4 linked regions of the Homo sapiens genome follow. The protein of the gene in region 2 interacts with the protein of the main gene of each other region in a biochemical or structural test. Each region holds a gene or a part of one and is shown on either strand. Other genes may lie near its edges.

Region 1 (7,023 bases), on a different chromosome or scaffold from region 2:
CCAGCTCCACAACCCTCAAACTAGAACCACACCAGTTCCTCCCTGGTCTCCAGCTCTACGACCCACCAATTAAAATAACATCAGCTCCTCACAGATCTCCATCTGCATGACCCTCAAACTAGAACACCTCTCCCACCTGGATCTCCAGCTCCACGACCCTCACAGAACAGCCAAACCAGCTCCTTCACTGTCTTCAGCTCCACAACCTAAGACATCAGTGGCAGCACCAGCTCTTCCCTGGACCTCCAGCTCAACGACTCTCATAGACTTAAAAGGCAGCACCGGCTCCTCCCCAAGGCTCCATCTCCACCACCTTCAGATTTGAACAGCGATAGCACCAGCTCCTCTCCAGGTCTTCAGCCCCAAGACCCTCCCTGACCAATCCCTTCTTACGAAATTCAGCAGTCAAGAAAACTGCAGCAGAAGTAAATGAATAAATGTTTTGTTTTCAAATCGATGTCTCTTTTATGTTCATGAGTTAACTTTTCTACTTTCCATTAGCCTTGCAATCTACTTATGTCCAATGTGAAACAGAAACACACCATTTGAAATCACGTTTAAAAACTTAGTAGTATTTTTAAAGAAAATCACCACACAGCTGTAGATGCGATCTTATTTCTCTCTGCCTGTGCAGAAGTCTTATGAAAATTCGAACTATGAATTTACTTTGTTGAGATTCCCAGAATACACATTAATCCCAACTGTTACTCCCCTCCTTAAAATCTTTTAACATATTCCCATCACTTGAGCATAAATGCCAGCTCCCATCCACAGCCCAAAGTGCCCAGCACGGCCCTGCCCTCTACCCTGGTCTATGGTCTCCCCTCTTAAATGCCAGCTCCCATCCACAGCCCAAAGTGCCCAGCACGGCCCTGCCCTCTGCCCTGGTCTATGGACTCCCCTCTTAAATGCCAGCTCCCATCCACAGCCTACAGTGCCCTCACAGCCCTGCCCTCTGCCCTGGTCTATGGACTCCCCTCTTAAATGCCAGCTCCCATCCACAGCCTACAGTGCCCTCACAGCCCTGCCCTCTGCCCTGGCCTGTGGTCTCCACTCTGGTGCCTGGCCCAGCCCTCCCCACCCCTCTGCCCTGGCTTATGGTCTCCCCTCTTAAATGCCAGCTCCCATCCACAGCCCACAGTGCCCAGCACAGCCCTGCCCTCTACTTCGGTCTATGGTCTCCCCTCTTAAATTCCAGCACCATCCACAGCCCACAGTGCCCGGCACAGCCCTGCCCTCTGCCCTGGTCTATGGTCTCCCCTCTTAAATGCCAGCACCATCCACAGCCCACAGTGCCCAGCACAGCCCTGCCCTCTGCTCTGGCCTAAGGTCTCTCCCCTGTGCTGTTCCCTTCCTGCCGGACAGGCCTCTATCCGTTCCTCAAACCACACAGGCTCAGGCCTGACTCCAGGCCTTTGCCCTGCTGTGCCCTCTGCCTAGGGTGCCTTTCCCGGGCTCTGCATCCTCCTCTCAACCCGCTGAGCTCCAGCCTGCTGGTCGCCCCTCAGGTGGATGAACACATGGTGTCCTCTCGCCCCGCTGGCTTTTGCACAGGCTCTTCTCTGTGCCAGACACAAACCCTCTCTATCGGGGTTTACTCTCTAAATACCATTCGTCCTTGGAGTCTCCACTGAAATATCGCTCCCTGCCCACCCCCCTCCCTTGGACTTAACCTTGGTTAGGTTGCCAACCCCCGTCTCCTGACTCCGGGAAGCTAGATGCTCTCCTAGCACTCGGAACTTGCCCATCGCCACATTTTGCACACCCGTGATTACTGGGTTAGGTTGGCGCACAAGTCATCGCAGTTTTTGCCATTACTATTAATGAACTGCAGCACCGGCTCCTCGTTTTTTTTTTTTTTTTTTTTTTTGCCATTACTTTTAATGACTGCTGCACCAACCTATTAGAATCATTTATATTTATTCATCCATCATCTGCCTTCCCCTCTAGAAAGGAAGCTCCATGAGAATAGAGGCCAAATCTACTCAAATAACTCCACCTTCCCACACATTGTCAATAATCATTTACCAACTGACTGATAGAGAAATGCCTTCCCTGTTGCTGGGATGAGGCACATGACACGCCCCTTTGAAAGTCACTGTCATGGACAGTTGGCATTTGCTCTTCACTGCTGCACCCGTGGCGTGGCTGGGCTTAGGCTGATCTAGTCTGGCCTTGACTCTAGGCTGAGGGTGGGAACCATGCCTGCTCCACACGCCTCTCATTCCACAGCCAGAGCCGCCGTTCCCTGGGGCACGCATATCTCGTGGGGAAAATCAAGAGCCTAAGAGGGCAGGCCTGGCAGTGCCACACATTCCAGGCTTCTGCTTGTGCCGTGTCTGTGAAAATCTCGTTGGCAGAAGCAAGTCACCCAGCCACAAGCAACACCTATAAGTCCATCCACCCTCCCTCCGGCCCTGGCAAGGATGCGGCTGCGTCATACTCTTAGGGGGGAATGAAAAACTGAGGCCCAAAATTAAATCACCCATGGCAAGAAATGTCAGTCTCTGTGTCCCCACACTGGAATTCTTCTTCACCAGCGGGTTTGCCTGAGCTGACTTCCCTTTGCAATGGTGTCTGCAGGTTTAGGCCAATGCTGTTCCCCATGGAGGACAGAGAAGCCTCAACGGGCCTCTCTGTTGGGAAGAACAAGATATTAGCTTGGCGCGAAACAACCGCAAGCCACAGGTGGCCCACACCCCGTGAGACAGGAGAGGGGCAGAGAACTGTGGGAACTCAGGAAAGCTTGCATCCCTAGCCCCTCCCATGTCCCCAGCCCCTCCCGTGTCCCCAGCACCCTCCCCCGCATCCCCAGCACCCTCCTGTGTCCCCAGCACCCTCCCCTGCATCCCCAGCACCCTCCCCTGTGTCCCCAGCCCTCTCCCCTGCTTGCCCCATCTCTTTCTTTTTTTCATTTTCTTTCTTTCCTTTTGTTTTATTTGAGACAGGGTCTGGCTCTGTCACCCAGGCTGGAGTGCAATGGCACGATCTCGGTTTACTGCAACCTTCACCTCCTAGGCTGAAGCAATTCTCCCTCCTCAGCCTCCCCAGTGGCTGGGACTACAGATGCACGCCACCATACCCAGCTAAATTTTTTTTTTTTTTTTGGGAGAGACAGGATCTGCCATGTTGCCCAGGCTGGTCTCAAATTCCTGAGCTCAAGTAATCCTCCCACCTCAGCCTCCCAAAGTGCTGGGATTACAAGCATGAGCCACCGAGTCCAGCCTGCTTTATTTTTCTCTACAGTACTTGGAATCTTCTAATATACTAAGGACACGTGTATTTTCTTTCTGTCTTCCCTAGAACAGGAGCTTAATGTGGGCAGGTATTTTTGTTGATCTCATTTATCACCCTATCCCCAGTGCCTGGACAGGGTCTGGCACATGAATGGTGTGTTCTAAATAAATATTTTTAATAGATAAATAAATGAAATATCCTACAAGAGAAAGCTATATCTGGAACTCACCCACCAACAGAACCTAAAAGCCAAAGACCTTTAGCCTGTCTCTGCCTCTGAACACACCCAACCCCGGAGGAGCCAGCAGAGGAAAAAGAGGACAAAGGTGGGGAAGGGAGCAGGTGGTGCCCACCAAGTAAGGAACCCTGAGGCTTAGGCGGAACCTGAGCTGGAGAAGGGACTCATCTAGGAACTGGGTATGAGATTAAAGTTTAGATTTGTCTGGCCTGGATTTTGTTAACACCTAAACAAGGGTTATTCTATTCTTTTTTTTTTTTTTTTTTGAGATGGAGTCTCACTGCCCCCCAGGCTGGAGTGCAGTGGCGCTATCTCAGCTCACTGCAACCTCTGCCTCCCAGGTTCAAGTGATTCTCACGCCTCAGCCTCCCGAGTAGCTGGGATTATAGGCGCGCACCACCATTCCCGGCTAATTTTGTATTTTTAGTAGAGATAGGGTTTCACCATGTTGGCCCCCTGGCTCACGCCCGTAATCCCAGCACTTTGGGAGGCTGAGGTGGGCAGATCAAGAGGTCAGGAGATCAAGACCATCCTAGCTAACATGGTGAAACCCTGTCTGTACTAAAAATACAAAAAATTGCTGGGCGTGGTGGCTCACGCCTGTAATCCCAGCACTTTGGGAGGCTGAGGCGGGTGGATCATGAGGTCATAAGATCGAGACCATCCTGGCTGACACGGTGAAACCCCGTCTCTACTAAAAAGACAAAAAATTAGCCAGGCATGGTGGCGGGTGCCTGTAGTCCCAGCTACTCGGGAGGCTGAGGCAGGAGAATGGCATGAACCCAGGAGGCGGAGCTTGCAGTGAGCCAAGATAGTGCCACCGCACTCCAGCCTAGGCGACAGAGACTCTGCCTCAAAAAAAAAAAAAAAAAAAAAATACAAAAAATTAGCTGGGCGTGGTGGTGGGCACCTGTAGTCCCAGCTACTCAGGAGGCTGAGGCAGGAGAATCGCTTGAACCCCAGATGCGGAGGTTGTAGTGAGCCAAGAGCGTGCCACTGCACTCCAGCCTGGGCGATAGAGCAAGCCTCTGTCTCAAAAACACACATAAAAAAACCTTCAAACGAATGTAAGAATTATTATTTTTTAAAGTACAGCTTTAAAAATGCCCCTTACAAATACATCAGTGTTATATTAAGGCAAACCTACTTCAGAAGCACAAAGTTAATTTCTTATAATTCCAAGAAATATGTGAATGTTAAAAAAACCCCAAACACCCGAAAAGGGATCAAACTCAAGATAGTTTGGAACATTTTATTGCAAAAAGAAGGGCAGAGAACAGTCTTCTTCTTCATACCTGTTCACCACAGACCTCCCTGAGAGCAGTAATTTTTAGCAGCTCTCCTGTGCAAACAAGTCTCATGAAGGAATCAGTGTATGGGCCACAAATACCTTCTCAGTGTGGTTTCACCTAGAATACAAGCACTCAGAAGCACAAATTTAACTGAAGTGAGAAACCAGGCCATTTTGTAGCTTCAGTTTTTCTACCAGTAATATATTAATTTCTTGAAATAGCCTAATAATTTAGTTCTACTATCAAAACAGAAGCCCAATCTGGGAGCACAATTATTATAGAAATCAAACTAATTTCAATCATATTAGTATAGGAATTCATATTAGTATAGGCTGAGGCAGGAGGATCACTTGAGCCTAGGAGTTTGAGACCAGCCTGAGCAAGACAGTGAGACTCCATCTCTAATTTTTTTCTTAAAATAAAGAAATTCAGAGAGAAGAAGGAAGAGGATATGTGTTTATCCAAGGACAAATTTTGTGTGCCTGTACATACAACACAACTATGAACCTTCCTTCACGCAGCTCACAACCTAGTAGTGAGAGGGAACTATGAAAACGTGAGCCCCCACGATGAGGAAAAAGGTGCATATCAGAGAAAAGAAAAATGCTGCGATGATCCAATGGCAGGAGCAGCGCGCATCCACTTTCTTTGTTTTTTTGAGATGGGGTTTCGCTCTGTCTCCCAGGCTGGAGTGCCGTGGCTTGATCTCAGCTCAATGCAGCCTCAACCTCCCAGGCTCAAGTGATCTTCCCATCTCAGCCTCCCAAGTAGCTGGGAATACAGGCGTGCACCACTACACTCATTTACTTTTTGTAGAAACAGGGTCTCACAATGTTGCCAAGGCTGGCATCCTGAAGGGCGGGTGGGGCTTCATCCTACAGAGATGAAAGGCAGAAGAAGCTTAGAGCCCAAAGCAAAGGGGTGGAGGACAAGGGCATCTTCAGAACAGAGTGGCTCGGCTGAGACATCCAGTAGGATGCCACCAGGCAGAGGTGTGGTGGAAAAACACAGGGCCACGGTGAATGCTCACATGTGAGGAGCAAACCACCACAGAACACAACAGAAACACGGTGTACTAAATCAGGCTTCAAATCGCAGCCCTGCAACTTGAGAGCTACCACAGGTAACCCGGAAAGGGAGCACCGACAGCAATGCCCACTGCCTGAGGCTGTGAGATGGACCAGAAACCTGTGCTTACTAACAACCTGCCTTATTCCAGAAGGAATTCAGGAAACACAGAGACACTCACGGTACAGCAAAATAAAGTAAATGTGAATCATATTGGTTGAGAAGAAAGTGAAGAGTCTAAGACTATGTCATAAAGTTTACTTCTACTCTAAACTCTCATTACTGGTGAGCCACCAACCTGACTTTAAATTTTCTAGCAGCTAAATTGAAGAGGAAAATGTCATCAGGTAAACGTTTATAAGATGCAAACAAAACAGAACGGCCACCACAGTTTCTGAGAACACGCGCAGCTCCAGGAGAAATGGGGTGGCCATTTCCTGGGGCTGCCCCGCAGCAGGTGTGTGAGCCCGAAAGCCAGCGTCTCTCAGGGTGAACAGTGACTACGGGCTTCATGGGGCCACATGCCCCCAGCACAAGCTGAGGAAATCTCCCAGGGCAATTCAGGCAACAGGGTCTCACAGTGTCGCCCAGGCTGGTCTCAAACTCCTGGGCTCAAGGGATCCCCCTGCCTCGGCCTCCCAAAGTGTTGGGAGGTCAGGCGTGAGCCACTGCACCTGGCCCTGCACTCACATTAGAGAAGAGGGCTTTGCATCCTGAAGGGCGGTGGGGCTTCATCCCACAGAGATGAAAGGCAGAGGAAGCTCAGAGCCCAAGGTAAAGGGGGGCGCCTAAGAAAAGTGACTCCATTGGGACCACGGTGAGAGGGTCCCGATACACAGCTTGGGTTAAGCCACTGATTTCAAAGTATCTCAGGAATGGTGGACTCAGCACCCATCAGGCAATTCTCTCAAGCAGTCTCCTGGTAGATATTTAGTAGCAGCTGAAATCAAGATTATGTTCTGATAGACACTTGCTGATGGTTAAAGAGCTATATACACTTTGAGGACCAGCTGAACTGGGGCAGGACTAACTCCCTCTGGTGAAAATACAGGAACCCAAACACACAAGTCAGAGCAGGAGGTGTCTCCCCCACCCCCAAACAATAATGCTGACCTTGGATTTGGGTTAAGTGCCTAGCCCAGCGTGTGAGTGTTGAGTAAGTGGAAACCATCATCACCATCATCAGGT
Region 2 (7,023 bases):
ACTGCTTCTTTCAACCTAGACAGGTCTCAGTTTAACCCCTGCCCATCTGGATGGCATGAACTCCCAGGATGAGTGCCCTCTCAGTCAGCATGAAAGCATGAAAATGTGACAGAATGAAGGTAGTGCATCAGTTTTATCCAAACCCTTTGTTTCTATTTTATTTTATTTGTTTTAGAGACAAGGTCTCACTCTGTTGCCCAGCCTGGAGTGCAGTGGCATGATCATGGTTCGCTGCTAGCTCGAACTCCTGGGCTCTAGTGATCCTCCTGCCTCAGCCTCCCGAGTAGCTGGGACTACAGGCATGAGCCACCACGCTGGGCTAATTTTATTTTATTTTACTATGTTTTTTTTGTAGAGACGGGGTCTTGCTATGTTGCCCAGACAGGTCTCAAACCTGGCCTCAAGCAGTCCTCCTGCCTTGGCCTCCCAAAGTATTGGGATTACAGGCGTGAGCCACCGCACCCAGCCTCCCATCTTTAAGTTTACTTGTACCCAATGTTTAGCTCCCACTTATGAGTGAGAACATTCAATATCTGGTTTGGTGTCTTTTTGGTAGAACAATTTATTTTCCTTTGGGTATATACCTAGTAATGGGATTGCTGGGTCGAACGGTAGTTCAGCTCTTAGTTCTTTGAGAACTCTCCAAATTACTTTCCACGGTGGCAGGACAAATTTACATTCTCACCAACAGTGTGTAAGTGTTCCCTTTTCTCTGCAGCCTCGCCAACATCTGTTATTTTTTGACTTTTTAACAAAAGCCATTCTGACTGGTGTGAGATGTTATCTCATTGTGGTTTTGATTTGCATTTCTCTGATGATTAGTGATGATGAACATTTTTTCATAAGTTTGTTGGCTGCTTGTATGCCTTCTTCTGAGAAGTGTCTGTTCATATCTTTCGCCTACTTTTTAACGGGGTTATTTGTTGTTTTGCTTGTTGATTTGTAGACCTTTCTTAAATGCGTAGTTTGTGAATATTTTCTCCCATTCTGAGGGTTGTCTTTGTACTCTCTTAATAGTGTCTCTTGTTGTGTAGAAGCTCTTTAGTTTAATTAGGTCCCATTTGTCATTTTTGTTTTTGTTGCAATTGCTTTTGAGGACTTAGTCATAAATTCTTTCCCAAGGCTGATGCAGAATGGTATTTCCTGGGCTTTCTTCTAGGACTCTTATGGTTTGAGGTCTTACATTTAAACCTTAATCCATCTTGAATGAATTTTTGTATATGGTGATAGATAGGGGTCCAATTTTATTCTGCATATGGCTAGCCAGCACCATTTATTGAATAGGGAGTCCTTTCTCCATTACTTACTTTGTTGACTTTGTTGAAGATCAGATGGTGTTAGGTGTGTGGTTTCATTTCTTGAGGTCTCTTTCACAACTTCTCAACTCTGCCCTATTACTCAAGAGCAGCCATAAACAGGACCTAAACAAATGATCATGACTATGTTCCAACCAAACGTTATTCGTGGACACTGAAATTTGAACTTCATATACCTCACAAAGTATGATTTCTTGTTTTATAACCATTTTAAAATGTAAAAACCATTCTTAGCTTGCAAGCCATACTCAAAAACAGGTGGCCCACAGGATTTGGCCCCTGTGCCATGCTGACCTTTGCTCTACACCCATGACCTGTACTTGAAAGTTGAATTTTTATGAGATAGTGGGAAGAACATGGTCCCTCATATTAGATCCGAGTTTTCATCCCAGCTCTGCTGTGAACCATGTAATTGTGAGAACGGCCCTTCATTGCCTCCAGTGGTGTTTCTTTGCCTGTAAAATTGACCAGGGTTAGAAGTGAAGGGGGAATTGAACACATTTTTTTAGGATTCCCTTATTTAATCCTGTGAATTTACAAAGGCAAGGTGGCATGGGATGCAGGCACAAAGCATTAGAACAGCATTTTCAAGGTTTGGCTTTGGGTCCTGATTCTTTTCTAACTTGGAGCAAGTCATTTAAAGCCTCAGAAAAGAGTGGAGTGTTGGAATAATTGGTATCTGAGATTCCCTCCAGCTCTCAAATTCTGTACTTTAAAATGACAGCATTATTAAGACAAATGAATCATTTCAGCTCGTAGAGATTAAATGAACTGCTTGTATATATCATATTCCTGCCCCTGAAGAGCTCAGAGTTGGTGGGGAGGGCAGACCAATGCCTTTGCCTTAGCAGTGCCTCTGTGCCAGGATGCTGGGCTCCCAGGAATCAGCTTCAAAAATCAGATTGAGGATACAGTGGGTTCAAGGGTAGCTTCTTATGCTTGTTTTTTGTTTGCTTTTTTCCTTTTTGTGGAGAATGGGGTCTCGCTATATTGCCTAGGCAGGTCTCAATTTCCTGGGCTCAAGCTATCCTCCTGCCTCTGCCTCCCTAAGAGCTGGGATTACAGGTGTGAGCCACCACACCTGGCAAGGGGTAGCTTCTTAAAGGTGGTGACACCTGAAGTGAAATGGCAGGGTAAGCAAGGAGAGCCTAATGAAGGTCTCAACGTTTACATGGGAAACAGTGATGTTCGAATAGCTCAACCTAACGGAGTGAGTAAGAACTTATTCCCAGCTACTCGGGAGGTTGAGGTGGGAGGATCCCTTGAGCCTGGGAGGCTGAGGCTGCGGTGAGCTGAAATCGTGCTACTGCAGTCCAGCCTGGGTGACAGAATGAGACCCTGTTTCAAAAAAAAAAAAAAAAAAAAAAGAAGAACTTAAAGTTTGGTAACATTTTTAATAAACTTTCCCAATCTTTGTGTACTGATGTCTTTAAAAAGAATAGGTTGCAAGTTAAAGGTTTTCACTGATTTTTTCTTGATCTGTTTACTATTTAACTATATTTTAATTTCTTCTTTGACTACAGTTGTCATTTGCTTTTTCATTTTCTTTCTGAGGTGAAGCTAATGCTCTGTCAATGCTTTTATGAAAATTCATCTTATTTACGTATACAAGAGACTGTCACTCAGAGACAGCAAAGCCAAGCTGACAATACCCCTTCTTTGCCCTCTGCATTGTAGGCAGAAAATTCCGTAAAAGCTAAGAGATGTCAATACTATCGTGTTGCCCTGTGTAGGTGGACAGATCCCAAATGGGAAGCTTTCCAAATTTTTTTTTTTTTTTTTTTTTTTGAGATGGAGTTTTGCTCTTGTCACGCAGGCTGGAGTGCAGTGGCTCGATCTCGGCTCACTGCAACCTCTGCTTCCTGGGTTCAAGTGATTCTCCTGCCTCAGCCTCCTGAGTAGCTGGGATTACAGTCATGTGCCACCACATTCCAGCTAATTTTTTTGTATTATTAGTAGAGACAGGGTTTCATCTTGTTGGCCAGACTGGTCTCAAACTCCTGACCTCAGGAGTGATCTGCCTGCCTTGGCCTCCCAAAGTGCTGGGATTACAGGCGTGAGCCACCGCGCCCAGCCCTAAATTTTTTTTAAAAGACATCAATGCTGCTATTCTCTTGTTTTGCTTATGAAAACACTGAACCGTGAAGAGGTTATATTCATTCATTCAGGTTAAATGTTTGAAGGTTCTTGCTTGGAGCACACTTTTCTTAGAAACAGTATTGCACATGGTGGTCAGATTCTGGGACTAGCCTGTAAGAAGCCTGGTTAACACAGTTTATGGAACCATTCACCATTTTAAACATTCGGGAAAATTCTGTTTCTGAAACCTAAAACCGGGACTTTTCTTGTATTAGAGCAGTGACTTTTGCTTTCATCCACCTCTGAGTAGCATCTTGGCCAGATGTAGGAGAAGCATCAACTTGGAGTGGTGAAGGTGGTGGGGCTGTGGTGAGGAAGGGGACAAAGGGAAGATCAGGTGGCTGCAGGGAGAACCGGGATGCTGTGTGAAGGAGGAGGCAATGCCAGCAGGAGATCCAGCAACACTTTCACTTCCTTTAGGCTTCTTCCCTTTCTACTTCTGGCCGACGTAAGACCCAGGGATGCTGCTGTGCTCAAGGCCACCTCACTCCTTCAGTGGACACAGGGTTAGCTTGGCTGCCTGCTTCCCATTTCCTTACCACCAGCCTTCACATCCGCCCGGGCCTTTCAGCTTGGCTCACTGCAGATTGCAACCGCTTACTCAGCCTTTCACCCTGTAGCAATCATAGGTAACAGGAAGGAAGCACATGCTAGTTAAAATTGTAAGAACTTAGCTTTTCTATTCTCATCCATGGTATGTTCCCACTTTACTTGAGCTTGTGACAAAAGTCGCCCATGTGTTAATATGCCATCTTGCTGGAGAGGCATCTGACCTTGCCAGGCTTTGGCTCCAACTTGCTTCCAGCAAAGCTCCTTAGGACTTCTAATCTTATTTGGTAAAACAATAAAACAAAACAGAACATAACCTTGTATCCCATCTATCCCAGATGGAGAAGTTCTTGAAAATTGTCCAGCCCACTTCTGCATTTCTACTTTCAATATACTTTCCGAGTATATTGTCTCATATATTTTGAAGGAGAGAGTAAAGTCTGTATGTCCTAAATAGTGGTTCCCACGAACCAGTTAAAAAAATTTGGAGGACTGACATGTGTTTGCCAACATTTAAATTTTTCCAAGTAAGAGTATTATAAGTAGAGAAAGTGAGGAAAATCGAGAGAGAGAAAGAGAGACAGAGAGACAAGAAAATCAACAACCAGCCACCTATTGCCATGATTTCTTAAAAAGGAAAGTTTTATGTTAAAAAAAAATTAGTGGGGGACATAACCTTAGAATGAAGGGCAGATCTTCACATACAGAAAATGTGTGCAAAAACTCATGACTTGTTATTTATTTTTCCCATTTCTCCAAGGATGAGTGAAAACTTTATCACACCAGTCAACAGAGTTGTGTTTGAGAGCCTCTGATTGGAACCGCCCTGCAGCCCCTTCCCACCTTTCAGCCACTGCTTCACGTGAGAAACGAACCTTAGTAAAATTATCAAAAGAGCAAACGTAGATAAACTCATAAGGGAAAACTCTAGTTAGGGAAGGATTTTTTAAAAAAATCCCAGTGGTGTCCAACACATGGTTTTTCTCTGAGCTGTTCACGTTCCCTGGCACACCATTGTAGCAGCTGCCACCCACCGCACACAAACTGACAGCACTGCTGCTTCTTGCTTTCTTGGATAATGGGTCAATTAAGGCAAAACTATAATTTTTTTAAAAGAGCTTAACTAGAAAATCGGACGGAAAAAAGCAAAATCAAAAAGAAAACTCCAGAGCACAAAATTAGTTTTTAGAGTACCAATTTCTTACCCCACATCATCAGCTGCATGTTGTCATGACCGGCTCTGCTTCCTGGGCTGCCAGGATCCTGGTTTCTTTCCTTAATTTGGTCACCTGTTGTCTGCTTGAGACATTATCAGTTGGTAGTTCGAGCTGGTTCCATCTCTGGGTGAAGCCTGTGCATTATATAAGCGCATAACACAGGCTTGTCTCACCCGTGGCCTTGGCTGGAGCCAGCCTTTTGGGAGTTCTCTGTTTATAGGGCAGTTCCCCTCTGGTGGCTATAAGAACTGTGCCCTACTTCCTGTTTCAGAGGTCTGGTTAGAGGCCCATTCAGTTCCTGTTTCTGGTTTGCAGGATAAAATTGGTTCACACTTTCTTTGTGGAGCAGTGGGAGATGGACAAGCACAAAGTCCGGGAAATGTGCAAGTCTCTCCAGCATGAGGTACCAACCGTGCCTGCTTTCCAAGTACTTCCTCCAAGTGGTCCCTTCAAACACCACTCCAAGCCAGGAAAGTAGAGAACCATAGGAAAATGCATTATTGGCTACTGACTCCAGGGCTGACAGTGTGCTGTGCAATGATGGCCCCTCCCAGGAGGCCATTCGAGGGCCTTTTATCACACGCTCCCCTTTCTGTCACCCATGGAAGCCTCACTGTGGCTGTAGAACATGCCAGCATTTGCCCCGCTCCACCTGGGGCAAGATGAGAGTGGGAAATGTGGTGGAGGTGGGCAGTGTTGCAGGAACCCACAGCTATGTGGTTATCAGAAGAAACTGGGAACCCACAGCTTTGGGAAAAATATATCTTGAAGACAGCCTCATCTTCCTGTAATTTGGATATAGGTAGGTGGGGAAACTGGCTAGATATGAGAAAGATACCCTCATTTTCAGGGAGTAAAATTAAACTTGAAAATTTTATTAGTGGCATAAAAGGGAAATAAAGGAAATCAAGGCAAAATGATAAATTAAAAATCCATTGGTGACTCTGATATATTGGTTTGTGTAGTTGTGGGTTTTTTTTTTTTTTAAGAAGATCTTGCTCTGTCACCCAGGCTGGAGTGCGTTGGCATGATTTCGGCTCCAACTGCAACCTCCGCCTTCTGGGCTCAAGTGATCCTCCTGCTTTGAGCACAGCCAAGCCTGGCCAATTTTTGTATTTTTATGTAGAGATGGGGTTTTACCATGTTGCCCAGGCTGGTCTCAAACTCCTGGACTCAAGCGATCCTCCTGCCTCAGTCTCCCAAAGTGCTGGGATTACAGGCGTGGGCCACTGCGCCTAGCCTAGTTGTTTTAATGTATTAGTTTTTCTCTTTGGCTAAAGGTATTGACTAGAGACACTAATCGAAATATGTGCCAGGTTAGTGGAAAAGCAGGAAGGATATGAGACAAAGCTGATTTTCAAAATCTTGTCTAAGTGTTCAAAAAATGTAAATAATTGATAACTTACATTTCATATGAATTTTATTTTGTAGTGTTTTTGGTTTTCCAAAGGAAAACAGAAATAACTGAAACTACATTGTGATAATTTTCTTAGGGGAGACAGGAGAGAGAATTTTAAATATTAAGGGCATTTCCTATTTAATAAAATCATAGTAGAGCAGATCTGTATAACTTAAATGCCACAGAAGTTGCACAGGGTAACAGAAAACATTCCACTATAAGCAGACCTTTTCTGTTACAGTAGTTCATCAACAATGAGGAAAGCAATTGCCTTTGGTATATGATTCATACAGGAAGTAAGTTATATTCCTTTGTACTGGCAATCTCCAAAAATGGTTGAGACCAGTTATACCAGTACTTTCCAATACTTGTAGCCTCTTCTACACCCGTGAACTCTTAAGAA
Region 3 (7,023 bases), on a different chromosome or scaffold from region 2:
GGCTCCAGGCCCTCCAGGAAGGTGGGTGAACCAGGTGGAAGGGAGGAATTTACCTGGATGCAAGATCTCCCAACAGGCTGGGTGGGTCAGAGGAGGCAGGAGAAGTGGTCAGGAGAGAGTTCAGAGAGGAAGAAAACAAAAAGCACATTCATTCACCACTTCTGCTGTCCCCCGGATAGAGAAGACCCACGGGACACACTCCCACCCACCCCCCTGCACAGCCCTGACTGCTCTTTCAGGGATACACCGAAATGGCATTAGCCCTGCCCCGAGGGACTGGGATCCAGACCCAGCTCAGCAAACCCCTGAGCCCCAGGATCCTCATCTGTCAAGGCAGTGTAAAAATTAACCCCAGTGCTGCCTGTCCCAAGGGAGGCCGGACTATCTAAAGGCAGAGGGAAGGACTCCGGGGTTGCCAAGAATGTTTGAGGGACTGTGGGTCCTGAAAGGTCACCAGACACAGGATTTGGGATTTGTAATTTTGAGATGTCCTATTATATAAGGTCAGGATTACATACTGCCACCTGCCAAGAGGCATTCTTCTAATAATCAAGGAGACCCAATGTCTAATGGGATTTAGCTTTTCAATCTTTTCATAGAAATTTATGAATTAAGTTACAAAAAAGAAACACAGTAGTTTGTTTGTTTGTTTTTCTCCCTGAGCTTCCACCAAACTATGCTCCAGGGCAGGGCAGTCTGGTCCACCACTATGACCTGAGTTAGGAGAGGAGATTTCAGGCAATGTTTGGGGCACTGTCTGGGCCTCTGTTTCACCATCTGTAAAATGGGAAAGCTGACTAGCAAATCCCCAATCCAGCTCTGGGTTCTGAGCCCTTTTAGCTGTTTCCTCAGAAAATCAGCTTGGGCATGCATGGGGGTGGGTGCTATGCCCAAAGTGTGATAAGGAGATGGCACCCCTGGGGACCCCACAGCAAAGACTCTGAGGACGCCGTCCCCTGGGCATGGCCAATCCTCAGTGCGAGCCCAGACCTAGGATAGAGGAGGAGGAGAGAGAGAAAGAGATGGGTGGGGGTAAGAGAGGGGCTGAGGGCCAAGGAAGGAAGAGAGGGAAAGCGGGCGGGGGAGAAAGAGGAACAGAAGGGAGGAAAAGAAGGGACAGGAGGTTCCTCCTCCAAGGTGGATGCAGCTAAAAGGGCTGCAAACAGGCAGAATGGGGCAGGGGCCTGTGGGCACCTGGGACGCTCCCCTCTGCACTCCGGGGTCTTGGGCTTGGCTGGAGCACTCACCCGCCCCGAGACACCACCAGCTTCACTTTCACTTTGTAGGAAACAATGATCCCCAGGATCTCACGGTTGGCACCTTCCCTCAACCTGCAAAGTGACACAGGGGAGCCAGTTCAGGGGCCTTGCCAGGTGGGCGAGACACCTCAGGGGTGGGTATGCTGGGGGGCAGTGGCCGTCCATCCCCCATCTGGCTAGCCACTCAGCTACCATGTCCAATAGAGCCCAGTGGAGATGAGGAAGGCGAGCAGTGCCCTTAGGTAGCAGGGACCCAGAGCCCCGGTTCCAAGTCTGACTGTGAGACTCGCTCACTGTGTGGCCCTGCTGAGCCCCTCTCCCTGCCCAGGCCAGCGTCCCCGCCATGAGGGCCAGGCTCCTCCTCCCCTCAGATGGATTCTGCTTCTCTCAGCAACCCATGGGCAGAAAGGGCCACACGGGGAGTTCACAGAGGGCGAGGCAGCTGGGGTGGGGTGGGGTGGGGGCCATCAGAGAAGGACTTCTCCGCAGAGGTGGTGCTTCAGCTGGGTCTTGAAGATGGGTAGGGTGTGAGCCAGGGTGGAGACAGGGCAAAAAGCTTCAGGTAAGTGGGAGGCTGTGCAGGGGCTGCTGAAGAGAGCTGAGTCTGTGCTGGGAGTGGCGGCTGCTCTAGACGTAGGCCAAAGCCCCACTGAAGGACCACACTGGCAAGAGGGCAAGATGGCATCCCCATAGCCAGGGCTCTGCTGGAGCAGAGTAGCCTAGAGGCGTCCACGATGACTGTGCAGCAGGAGTGACCAGATGCCCTGGGACCCCTGACTTGGAGGGGCACCCCATGTTGGGTCTAACCCAGCTCACCACCCTGGTCTCTCCTCAGGGACACCCCATCTGACTGAAGGCATTACGTCAGAAGCTGCCACCTCTTGCAGGAAGCCTTCCCAGGTTGCCCTCCCCCAGGCATGGTAGCAGAGCCCAGCACTGCCTGAGTGAGCTGGCCTAGTGGTCCATCTTATTCTCTCAGTCACCCCTGGGTAGGGTTGGGAGTAAGGAGGCAGCTTCCCTGACAAGTCAAGCACCTGAGGACAGGCCCTGACAAGGCTATGGAGAGGGTAGCCTGAGCCTTGTCTTTGAACTGGGGGGACCAAGGAGGGTGTGGCCCCATCAGGCAAGATGCACTAGGAGCCCAGGGCTAGGAGGGCAGGTCCTCACAGGGTGCTAGAGGCCAAGTTCGTGTCTTCGTGCTTGAGCTTCCCGTCCAAGGCGAGGCCCCGCTTCTCTCGGTTATTGGCTAGGAAGGGGGTCAGTGTGTAGACCTTGCAGAACGTCGAGCTGGGTGCCACAGTGTCACTGGGAAGAAAGGAAGCAGCTGTGGAGATGGCCCTCCCCAGAGCCAACCCCAGCCCTGATCTCCAGCCCAGCAGAATATCTAGTCTGAGCCTGCTCCAAGTCTCCCTCTCCCAACCTCTGTCCCCCAGACACACGGACCACTTGGGCCAGCCCAGCTCGGGCAAGGAGACCACTGCCACTCAAAAGAGGCACATCTACATTCTACGCACAAACAGGACTGAATCTCGGATATTCTAAAAGATTATCCTAGTCAAGCAGCACAGTGCTAAAAAGCACATTTATTTAAAGAATTACAGCCAGCCGGGTGCAGTGGCTCACGCCTGTAATCCCAGCATTTTGGGAGGCCGAGGCGGGTAGATCACGAGGTCAGGAGTTGGAGACCATCCTGGCTAACAAGGTGAAACCCCGTCTCTACTAAAAATACAAAAAAATTAGCCGGGCATGGTGGTGGACGCCTGTAGTTCCAGCTACTCAGGAGGCTGAGCCAGGAGAATGGCATGAACCTGGGAGGTGGAGCTTACAGTGAGCCGAGATTGCTCCACTGCACTCCAGCCTGGGTGACAGAGCAAGACTCCATCTCAAAAAAAAAAAAAAAAAAAGTACAGCCACAGCAGGCACAGTTGCTCATGCCTGTAATCCCAGCAACTTGAGAGGCTGACAGGAGGATTGCTTGAGGCTAGGAGTTTGAGACCAGCCTGGGCAACATAGCAAGACCCCATCGCTACAAAAAATTTTAAACATTAGCCTGATATGGTGGTGCACACCTGTAGTCCTAGCTACTTGGGAGGCTGAGGCAGGAGGATCACTTGAGCCCAGGAGTTCGAGGCTGGCTGTAGTGAGCCATGATCATACCACTGCACTCCAGCCTGGGCAACAGAGTGAAACTCTGTCTCTAAACAAATTTAATTTAAATTTATTTTATTTTATTTTATTTTATTTTATTTTATTTTTTTGAGACAGAGTCTTGCTCTGTCGCCCAGGCTAGAGTACAGTAGTGCGATCCTGGCTCACTGGAACCTCCACCTCCCAGGTTGAAGCAGTTCTCCTACCTCAGCCTCCCAAGTAGCTGGGATCACAGGGGCGCGCCACCATGCCCGACTAATTTTTGTATTTTTAGTAGAGATGAGGTTTTGCCATGTTGGCCAGGATGGTCTCAAACTCCTGACCTCAAGTGATCTGCCTGCCTCAGCCTCCCCAAGTGCTGGGATTATAGGCGTGAGCACCAGCCCTGTCTCTAAACACATTTTAAAAAGAAAAAATTATAGCTACACATAAACCATAAATGAAGCTATTTGGGCACCCATATACCCACCATCTAGGCTCAACAATTAAAACTTTACTTGCTTGATCACATCCATCATATATAGGGTGTTTTGATTGTCCAATTTTTACTTGCTTTTGCTCTATCCCCCATCCTTTCCAATGAGAGAGCTGTCATGCAGCAGATAGTGAACAAGCCTTGGAGTCGGACGACCGTGTTCCAGCCCCAGCTTTGCTGCTTGCTAACTTGCAAGTCACATCTCTCTGAGCCACTTCCTCCTCTACATACTGGGGCAGCAGCAACCCCAGCCCCACAGCGCTTCCTGAGAAGTAAACAAGTCTGTGAGTGCAAATGCCTCCCCAGCCATCCCTGCTGGTATTCGTTATGCAGACGCTGGCACCATCTGCAGTGGTTGGGATTTTCTACTCTTTAGGGATTATATGTTACTCTGGTTCTAGATCACTTCACTTTACCATCAGGAATCTATGCCTCATAGCTCTGATTTTTTTGAAAAAATCAACAGTGGATATGAAAAATATCCAGTAACCAGAGAAAGCTTGATCTAATCATAGCATGTTCACCTATAGGACATTAAAAACTATTTCAAAGGCCATGTAGTAACATTTTAAAAATATTTTCAGTTGCAAGAAATACTGATTGGAATTATACATAAACAAATACACATATACATGTAAAATTATATCAGGTATAATTGCCCCAAGAAATTACTTGCAGGGCCAGGAAAAAAAAATGTGTATGTCTTTGAATGGGAGCATTTACTTCCTTTAGGTAAGTAAAGATGTTTCACTTCAGATCTCTCCACTTGCCTTAGCTGCCAACAAGCCTGGGACAAAGTTCGATCCATGCTCAACCATAGCAGTTCTCCTCAAACCTAGATGATTTTTTTGTGTGTAATTATTCTCTGCACTCCCACACACAACCCCTTTTTCCCAATGAGTTGGATTACCCCTTTATCAGACAAGAGCTGTGTACCTAGTGCCTTACCCACTTTGCCCTGGCTACCAGGAAGCCAAGAACAAAGTATTTCCCTTCAACCTAGGTTTCTTGTACAACGTAATTATTTCTTCTCACAACCCCAATCCCCTTACATTCATTAGCTATTGTTTTGTCACTCTAGTTTTAGTGGGTCTCTTCCTTGACTGTAGCATGCATTTTCTTGAAGCTAAATCAGGTGGATGGTTTCTAAAAGGCTCTTCGGGATCATCTACTCTGAGTGGCAAGGAAGTCTGAGGCCCAGCCCTCTGCCAGGTGGAGAAGAGCCACCTGGACCTGTAACAGGACACCTAGAGCTTCTCTTTTTCCCACCCAATCCCATACGCCCAAGGCCAGACTTGTGCCCACTTACTCAGCCTCTTCCATGGCAACAGGGCACTTGTACTGAGCTGTGTTGAAAAGGCAGATGTCTGCATACTGGCGCACTAGGGAGGGAGAGGAATCAAGGTGGAGTGAGTCGGGAATGTAGCTCCCATGGAGTCTCACAGGCGTCCCCGGGTTGGGGATATTCAGCCCCAGGCAATGGCCAGAGGCCACCAGTGGGGACTTCTGCATAAGACCACCCCTGTCTTACATCCAAAGGGTAGCCCCAAACACACCCATTTCCTTCCATAACCAAAGCCTTCCCCTCAAGGACAGCTTTGTCCAGAACCCAAGAAACTGAAGAGGTGGCTTAAAGAGCAAACTCATTACCTAGCCAATAAGCAGCCTGCCTTACCCAACTCAAAAGCTTTGCCCTGTGGCTCAGAGCAGGCCCTGGGCTTCAGTGGCTATTTTTTATACAAGGCTGTTAACAAGGGGAGATACTTCAGCCACCCCCAGCCCTTGGGAAGATTGCCTCTCGCTGTCCCCTAAGCTGACCCTCTGTCTGGGATACCTGAGATCTTGATCTTCTTCACCGTCTTGTTGGTGTTGTTGGTGACGTGGACGTTGACGCTGATGGGTTCTCCATGGTAATAGATCTGGGGGGCATAAGAAGGGACGGGGTTGGCTGGGAGGACAGCAAGGTTCTAGGGAAAGGGGAGGGAGAAAAGCCCCCACGCGATCTTCTGGGGTTCCCCAGACCTTGCGCAGACCTTCAGAAGGGTCTGCTGCTCCCATCTGAAGTCCATCACATCCCTCAGGTTCATGCCCCCTCTGCCACTCCTTTAGGCCCAAGAGGCTTCTCCGAATCCCCCAAGGCATTGTGACATTTGCCCCAAGTTCATCAGCCACTTCCCACTGCTGCTAAGGTGGCATGAAAGCCACCAAGCACATTAGCCTTCAGTTCCCTGGTGGGACCCTTGAAAGATAACGGAATTGGAAGGTGATAGTCCTGGGCTCCAGCCCTGGCTTGGCCAGCAGTAATTGTGACAACAATAACAACAATAACATTGACGATGATGAAAGCAGTGTGACCGTGGGTAGGTTATCTAAGCCTCAGGGTCTCCCTCTGTGCAACGAAGGGGTTGGACTAGGTGATGTCTGAAGTCCCTGCCAGCTCTAAATTCTGTCCACAGAAGGATCTGGAAGAAGCAGGGAAAGGTGAGGATGGGCTCACCAGCTCACTGAGGGAGCCAGCTCTGAATCCCTACAAAAAGACCTCAACTTGCATCTTGCCCCAAGGCACTTCCCTTCAGCCATGCCCCGAGAGAGAGGGGGTGCCCACACCTTGAGGAGGGGCCAGCCTAAGCTCACAGCAGTCAGCTGGGTTTGATTCAGAGTTTGAGGGGAGGCCCTTCCTTCTGCAGGGCTTGTCGCCCTGACGCTCAGTGTTTGGCAGGAAGGTCACGGCCCCCCACCGTGCCCCCTCTGCAATGCTGGTTGACCTTCAGCACTCGGCCTGAGGCAGGCAGCTGGTGGAGGTGTGGGGGAGATGTCCAGGACCTTCAGGAAGGTCTGCTCCTCACTTCGGAAGTCCATCACATCTCTCAAGTTCATGCCCCCTTTGCCACTCCTTTAGGCCCAAGAGGCTTCTCCAAATCCCCCATGAGAGGTCTCAGATTCCCTGACCCCTGTGGTCCTTGGGCTGGGGATAGAAGCTCCTACCTGAGGCATCCTTGCAGGCCAGGAGAGAGCTGGGATCTGAGGCCCAGGCCCTGGTGGAGCAGCCCCCACCCCCTGCCAAGTCCGAGCCTCCTACCTCCTTATCCAGAGAGGCTTCTAGGTGCAAGGGCTTGTCCGACATGAGGAACTGCCTGGTGG
Region 4 (7,023 bases), on a different chromosome or scaffold from region 2:
ACGCCCACTCCAGCTGCTCACCGGGGATGCTGGAGATGCACAGCACGTGCGCGTTGCAGACGGTGAACTGGTCCACCACCGTGCCCGGCTGGTTGGCGTCGATGATCACCACCTTGCTGGTGGTCAGGGTGCTGGTCAGGATCCACACCCGGCTGGAGGTGGCGTCCATTTCAGGGAGCTCCTTGGCCTGTTTCAGGGCACGGGATCAAGGTCAGAGCCCGAGCTTGAGGCTACCCGGTGGCAGCACAGGGCCATGGGGCTCCCAGAATCTGTCAGGATCCAGCCTTGACTACAGCTTGAGGGGACATGGCTGTCCTCCCCCAGGACCAGAACAATGCGGACTCAGGACTGCACTCTAAAGCACTCACAGACACGGTTTCGCCTCCACAGAAGAGGCCCCTGAGCTCCAAGAGGCCCAAGCTGGGCATAAAACTAAGCCTCCCACCACTGGGAGGCAAGCTCTGCCGCTCCTGGGCTCCTCTGTGCCTGCTGCCTGCCTGACCCCTGCAGCCCAGTGCAGGCCCACTCCAGGCCACCTGGGGGGTGAAAACTGAAAACCCAGAAGGCGGCTCAGTCCTGGTGAGGGAAGACACTGCTTCCCGCAGTCTAGGAGCCCCTGCGCTGCCCTGCTTCCGGGTGCTGTCCCCAGCTGTCCTGTGTCTCACTCCCAGCATGCTCTGCAGCTGAGCTGTCCTGAGACTAAGCCAGGGAGGGTGCCCGGTGGCCTCGGCCATGCTCACCTTCTTCTTCTCGGGAGACGTGTGGGCGCTCTTGGGCTCGCCGTCTCCTTCGCGGTCGCAGGTCAGGGGATCGCGGCCTGGCGCTGGCTTGACTCCATTCCCAGCGTCGTCCTCATTGGGCCTCCACCCGCTCAGGTTGACGCCCGCGGCACACCACAGCTGCAAGGGCAGGGCCGAGGTCGGGTGTCACCGGCACTCCCCAGCCTCCCGCTCGCCCAGCCAGCCTGAGCGGGGTCCTCGCGGGCTCACCTTCATGGTGGGGTCCTTCTCCACCAGAGGGCGGCAGTACACCGGCACCGGCACGTTCTTCATCCGCGTGTCCTCCTGGCCCCCGTTGGGACTCAGCTGCAGGGAGCAGGGAGGCGCCGTGGGCACGAACCCTGGCTCCTACCCATCCCTCCAGAAATCTGAGACAGGTAGGGCTGCCAGCTTCTGGCGGCACAGCCACTTCAAGACTGGAGGCAGGTGGGGGCGTGGGAGCCGCGGGGCTCCTTCTCCGACCCTCCAGACCCCTGCCCAGGAGGCTCACTAGGAACCTGCCAGGCCCCGCCCCACCCGCCGTCCTCTCCCACCCCCTAGCACTGCCCCGCCCTCTCCCCGCCCCACAGCGCCCCGCCCCTTACCCCCGCCCCGCCTCTGCGGGGCCCCGCCCGGTCCCCGCAGCGCCCGCCCGCACCTGCTTGTACTTGGCGGGCAGGCTCCAGCCGCAGGCCTGCAGACGGCCGTCGTCGTTACGCACGTGCTCACGCACCTGGCGGTACTGCTCGCGCTTCTGCTCTCGACGGGCGGAGGACGTGCAGTCGCTGAGTGGAAGAATGATGGGTGATGTCTCTGTCCAGGGTGAGCGGCCCCCACAGTGCCCCAGGCTTGTCCTGGGGGAGGTCACGGCAGGGAGGCCCGCCTGGGCCCATCCTCGCCTTTTCCCGGCCACCGGGTGCCCAGCTGGGAAGGGTGGCTTTCCCGGCACTGGGTGCCCAGCTGGGAAGGGTGGCTTTCCTGGCACCGGCTATGCCCCTGGGCTTGGAGGCCACAGCTGGCCCCTGCTCGACCCAGAGGCTGCTCTGCTGCCACAGTCACTGAGGGTTCCACAGACCGGGACCTGGAGTGCCGCCGGGGCACAGGCATGACCAGCGACTCCCTGCTGGACAGACGCCTGAAACGGCTCCTTGCTGCAGAGGCCACCGTGGAGCCCAGCACAGCCCCCTGACTGTTGGTGGGCACAGCCTCTGCCAAGGGACATCCTGAACCAAATACCGTGGAGCCAAAGCAGCCCAGCTCCCCGCTGCAGGGAGGGGCAGGCAGTGTGCAGGGAGAGGTCACGGCCCCTGGCATGTGGCCAGCAAGGTGGAGGCTGCCCTCAAAGTCCCGCTTCAGGGCCTGGAGGGGAGGAGCCTCAGGACAGGGCCTCCCCAACCCCATTGCAGGCCACAAGTGGGGGCTGCGGGACACTCACTCGTCAGGGAAGAATTCCAGGGGCCGGCTGCCTGCCGAGATCGGGCACATGGCATGGTTGCGGCGCTGGCTGAAGCCGGCAGTGGTGGGTGACTTGTAGTGGATGTTCACCGAGGGATAGGGGCGCTTGGCCGGAGGGGGGCTGGAGGAAGAGCTGAAGAGGCGGCTGAAGCTGCCAGAGGCACAGGGAGGTGAGGGGTGGGCAGAGGACCAGGGAACCTCCCTGCCCCTTCCCCTGCAGCTGCTGCCCACATCCCCCAGGGGCCCCCAGCTTACAACTGCCAGATGGTCGACTTCTTCTTCTCCTGGACGGATGGGTGCTCTCGGGACGCTCTGCAGGGGAGGGCACAGGGAGCAACCTGCTAGTGCCCTCACGCCTCCCTTACCTGCGACTCTCTGGCTCCCGCCAGGAAGCACCCAGCGCACTTCAGTCCCCCCAGAAGACAGGGAGGTGCAGAGGAGGGAGCCGCAGTCCTGCCGTCAGGGATGATCCCGCAGCCCCTCCTGGGGTGGCCGCAACTCCCACCTGATCATCTCAGTCCACCGCACAGCCTCCTGCAGCTCCATCAGCCGCTCCTTGTACTGGTTCCGCTCCATGAGCACACGGGCCATCTCCACCCGCGTGAAGCGGCGGCGCTGGGCCATGGGGATTTTGTCCTGCGGAGGGAGGGGCACAGAGGCTCAGCCAGCCCTCGGAGGCCGGGTGACACCTGCTTCCTCCTGGGGTGCCTACACGTATAGGTGGATCTCAGTGCCAATTTCCTTCAGATCCTCAGGCAAGAAGCGGTGTGGAGGGGTGTCGGCAAGCGGGGAGGGGAACCATACAAAAGGCATGCACCAGGACTTGGGTGCTGACAGGGGACCCGGCATCCTGCCAGGGCTGTGGTCCTGCCCAAGGGCCTGATTCTGACTCCATGTGGTCTCAGGAGTGGGGTGGCAGATGATGCCGCTGGGGTCAGGTGTCACCCAGGAGGGGTGGGAGAGCTGTCAGCCCAGAACAGCCGGCGAGTCCCCAGGAGCCCGCCTGGGCCCCCTGCCCGTGCCCACCCCAGCCCTGCATGTGAATTGTGGGATATACTGATTCTGTACAGAGACAGAAGCGCCGGTGAGTCCCCGGGAGGCACCCCGCATCCCCATGCCCCGAGTGTGAATAGTAGGATATACTGTGTGTGAATGGTGAATGGTGAATGGTGGCCGCCCAGCGTGTGAATGTGTGGGAATGATGGCTGCCCCACGTGTGAATGCGTATGAACAGTGGTCACCCGGCGTGTGAATGTGTGGGAACAGTGGCCGCCCCGCCTGGGAATGGTGAATGGTGGCCGCCCCGCCTGTGAATGGTGAATGGTGGCCGCCCCGCCTGTGAATGGTGAATGGTGGCCGCCCCGCCTGTGAATGGTGAATGGTGGCCGCTCTGCCTGTGAATGGTGAATGGTGGTCGCCCTGTGTGTGAATGGTGAATGGCGGCCGCCCTGCCTGTGAATGGTGAATGGTGGCCGCCCCGCCTGTGAATGGTGAATGGTGGCCGCCCCGCCTGTGAATGGTGAATGGTGGCCGCTCTGCCTGTGAATGGTGAATGGTGGCCGCTCTGCCTGTGAATGGTGAATGGTGGTCACCCTGTGTGTGAATGGTGAACGGTGGCCGCCCCGCCTGTGAAAAGTGAATGGTGGACGCCCCGCATGTGAAGAGTGAAGAGTGGATGTACCGATTCTGTACAGAGATAGCTGCTTACATCCTCCGCCTCTTCTTTGGGTTCACGGCGGGCGATGATGGCCTCGGACTTCACTCTGTGGGAAGGGGAAGGAGGCAGGGAGGGTGAGGGCCTCCCAGGGGCCTCGGGAACACATAGCGGGCAGTGCCCGCCCCGAACCTGTGTCCTTGCCTCTGTGCAGGGCTGGGGGCTCTCCCCACAGGGACCCCTTCAGCAGCCGTTTGGTTCAGGGCCCTGAACGCTTCTTCCAGTTCCCTGGGGACAGGTGGCCCTGAGCCACTGCTGCATGAGTGCTCTGAAGCCCAGCCGTCCATCCTGGCTGCCCGGGAATGCGGAGGGGGAGCAAAGCAGAGGGGCCCTGGCTTTGGCAAACCCAGAGCAGATCTGGGTCCCTTCTTAGGCAGAGGCATGGTCTCGGAGCGCCCACACCTCCTCTGTCCATCAGAGAAGGGCTGGAGCCCCAACATACAGCTCTCCGGGGGCCGTGGCCAAACCTTGGCTGATCAAAGGGCTGGAGGAGTGGGATGGTGGGAGCTGTGCAGAGAAGGAACGCGTGAGACAGGCCCAGCGTGTGCTGTAGGAGGCTCAGGAGGAGACCACGGCCCCACTCTGCTGGTTGGGGTGGAGTGGCTGTGAGCTGGAGCTGGAGGTAGGTAGGCTATGCACAGAGCCGCTCAGGCTGGAGAGCAGGCACTGGAGGAGGCAGCCACTCCAGAGCCCTGAGGCCGGGGTCCCTCTCTGACCAGCTTTCCATGCCCTGCCCTCACCTTTTCAGTTCCTCTTCCAGCTCCTTGATACGGTTTTCCAGCTTGACTTTGGCCTGCTTAGCAGCCTCCAACTCGCCCCTCAGCACCTCCTGCTCCCCGGACAGCTGGTCGACCTTGGCAATCAGGTCATTCTTCACCACATTCAAGGCGTTTCTTTGAAAAAGCAGAAAGATGGGAGTGCCACGGGCGCGGCATACAGGTACGTGAAGGGGCCTTGCCAGGGGCGCCTGCACTTCCGCCCTGGAGAAGGCACAGCCTGGTTAGGAAGGTGGCTGAATGGGAGACCCCATCCCCATCTTAGCTAAACCCTATAGCACCCTTGTTAGAGGCTCCTGGAGACAAGCTTCGTAAAGAAACCAGGCAGAGTCCTGCTCCAAGTTCCTCCCGCCAGAGATGAGGACAGCTGCTGGCGTTGGAGCCAGGTGCTCCCCAAGGCGCCCTCTGGCCCGGCTCACTCTCCCAGCCCTGACAAGGAGGGCTGCCTCAGCCCCACCACACAGGAGAAGGGCACTCTTACTTGGTTTCCAGAAGCTGTGAGTTTTCCAGTAGCAGATTCCCCACTTCTTTGCCCATTCCTGAAACAGAAGGTGCGGAGGTTTCACCTGTGCCCTTCAAAACAGGTCACTGATGCCGCCGCACCTGCCTCAGGGCAACAACGCTTCCAAAGAGGGTAGCCTGGCTGGGGATGACGCCCGATCTACAGGGAGCGGGGGCCGTGAAGGGCGGGGCTCATGCTGGGCCCGCAGTCTGTGCACAGAGCAGGCTCCCAGGCCTTGGGGTGGTTCTCATGTCCGACCAATGTCACAGGCCAGCTGGCCGGACGCAGGCCCCTGAATGGCCGCTGGGCTGCCATCTCAGTGCCCCCAGCAGGTCTGTCACCAGGCAGGCCCTCTCGGAGCCACCACCCTAGGCGAGTGATGTTGGAGCTGCGGTGAGGGGACAGGTGGGCAAGGAGAGGCCTGGCCCTCACGGCAGGGCCAGCAGGGCTGGGGTGCGGCGATGGGGCGCGGCTGTGAGGACAGGGCTCCCTGGCAGGACTGAAGGCTCCTCTACCACGAGGCCCCAAGTGGACCTGGACTGATCTCCCTGCAAGCATGCCCCAGAAACCCCAAAAGGATGGAAAGAAACTCCAAGGTCCTGCCCTCCCACACACTCCCCCACTGTGTATGCAGTCATGAAACAGCATCACACGCCTCTGTGCCTGGGCTCAGGGGTCCTGCCTGCTGTCTCTATTATGACCTCCCTTGCCTCAAACATGGGCCTTCCTCCCCACAGGCAGGGTCTGCCCGGCGCTTGTGGGGTTCAGAGAGGCTGGGGCTGCCCTCCTCGGGCCTTCAAGTCTGTCCCTTGGGGAAGTCGCCACCTCCCACAGCCCAGAGGCAGCCTGGACAGAGCGAGCTTCACTCAGGGCTGCCCCCCTGACCCCGGCGGCCCCAACACTGTCCCCATCATGCAGAACAAAGCAAACGGCTCATGAAGCAGGAGACCATGTCGGGGTGGAGGAGCGACGCACGCTGGAACGGGGCCTCAGCCTTACCAAAGAAATCATCGCGCACTAGGGAGCCGTCCCCGTCCCACAGGAGATGGGCAACCAGGGCGGGAGGAGAGGGAGAAAGGGAGAGAAGAGAAGCGCGTTAAGCCCGTGTGGACAGCAGGCTGGGAGGAATTCAGAGCTGGGTCTGCTGGGTTAGGGTGGGTGCAGGAGGGAGTTAGGAGGGCAGGAGATGGGATGGAGCCAGCTATTCCTTCTGGAAAGTTTATCCTTGGGGTTACATGAAGACTGCCAGGCCAGTGTCACCTGTGGAGCAGGAAGCTAACATCTCACCCCAAATTCTGGGCTGGGTGGGGCTGAGGGCAGAAGGCACCCCTGTGGGGATGGGCTGTGCCTGGAGGCTGGGGGGCTGCATCTGGACAGCCTCTGGGTGGGGCCTCGGAGCCTCCTGCTGTGCAGCCAGAGAGCAGGACTCGGCCTGTCCACCCACGTGGGGAGGGGACCCCGGGCTGGGCTTCGTAGGGGCTTCAAGGACCCCTGACTTCTGGGGTGTGCCTGACAGCAGGGGAGGCCCCAGAGCTGGCCTTGGCCATGTCCAGTCACTGCCGTGCGTGGCTTAGGGCTCCGCAGGGCCTTCAGAAATGGCCCGCGGGGGACTCCTCAGGCTGGGGGGGTTGGATATCCAGGTCATTGTCAAGTGGCTGGTGGAGCAAACCGAACAAGCTTCCGAGCGGCGGTGGCTGCGAGCAGAAGCAGAGGCGCTGCGGCGACGTGGGGGGCAGTCCACACAGCCACGGTGACGGGATAGCTCGGGGCATCCCCCGTCCACCCACTCCCCCCGTCACACAGAGGGGAGACAGACAG

What was found.
Region 1: the proteins of MAP3K5 (region 2) and PDCD6 form a complex in vitro, tested with the Homo sapiens proteins (one study listed by BioGRID).
Region 3: the proteins of MAP3K5 (region 2) and ARRB1 interact in a test that uses a peptide from one of them, tested with the Homo sapiens proteins (one study listed by BioGRID and IntAct).
Region 4: of the proteins of MAP3K5 (region 2) and MAPK8IP3, one has a biochemical effect on the other in vitro, tested with the Homo sapiens proteins (one study listed by BioGRID).

The regions. Positions count from the first base shown.
Region 1 is NC_000005.10:274,631-281,653, reverse strand, and holds part of PDCD6 (programmed cell death protein 6), read right to left. Parts: intron 5,643-7,023; exon of another isoform or gene 4,714-5,642; intron 1-4,713. UniProt on the Homo sapiens protein: Calcium sensor that plays a key role in processes such as endoplasmic reticulum (ER)-Golgi vesicular transport, endosomal biogenesis or membrane repair.
Region 2 is NC_000006.12:136,782,461-136,789,483, reverse strand, and holds part of MAP3K5 (mitogen-activated protein kinase kinase kinase 5), read left to right. Parts: intron 1-3,429; exon of another isoform or gene 3,430-4,069; intron 4,070-5,209; exon of another isoform or gene 5,210-5,437; intron 5,438-7,023. UniProt on the Homo sapiens protein: Serine/threonine kinase which acts as an essential component of the MAP kinase signal transduction pathway. Plays an important role in the cascades of cellular responses evoked by changes in the environment.
Region 3 is NC_000011.10:75,271,648-75,278,670, forward strand, and holds part of ARRB1 (beta-arrestin-1), read right to left. Parts: coding exon 6,962-7,023; intron 5,802-6,961; coding exon 5,717-5,801; intron 5,265-5,716; coding exon 5,192-5,264; intron 2,565-5,191; coding exon 2,427-2,564; intron 1,332-2,426; coding exon 1,248-1,331; intron 78-1,247; coding exon 54-77; intron 1-53. UniProt on the Homo sapiens protein: Functions in regulating agonist-mediated G-protein coupled receptor (GPCR) signaling by mediating both receptor desensitization and resensitization processes.
Region 4 is NC_000016.10:1,758,177-1,765,199, reverse strand, and holds part of MAPK8IP3 (C-Jun-amino-terminal kinase-interacting protein 3), read right to left. Parts: intron 6,223-7,023; coding exon 6,205-6,222; intron 5,243-6,204; coding exon 5,185-5,242; intron 4,821-5,184; coding exon 4,668-4,820; intron 3,977-4,667; coding exon 3,895-3,976; intron 2,850-3,894; coding exon 2,719-2,849; intron 2,526-2,718; coding exon 2,469-2,525; intron 2,365-2,468; coding exon 2,194-2,364; intron 1,544-2,193; coding exon 1,417-1,543; intron 1,086-1,416; coding exon 990-1,085; intron 900-989; coding exon 741-899; intron 188-740; coding exon 22-187; intron 1-21.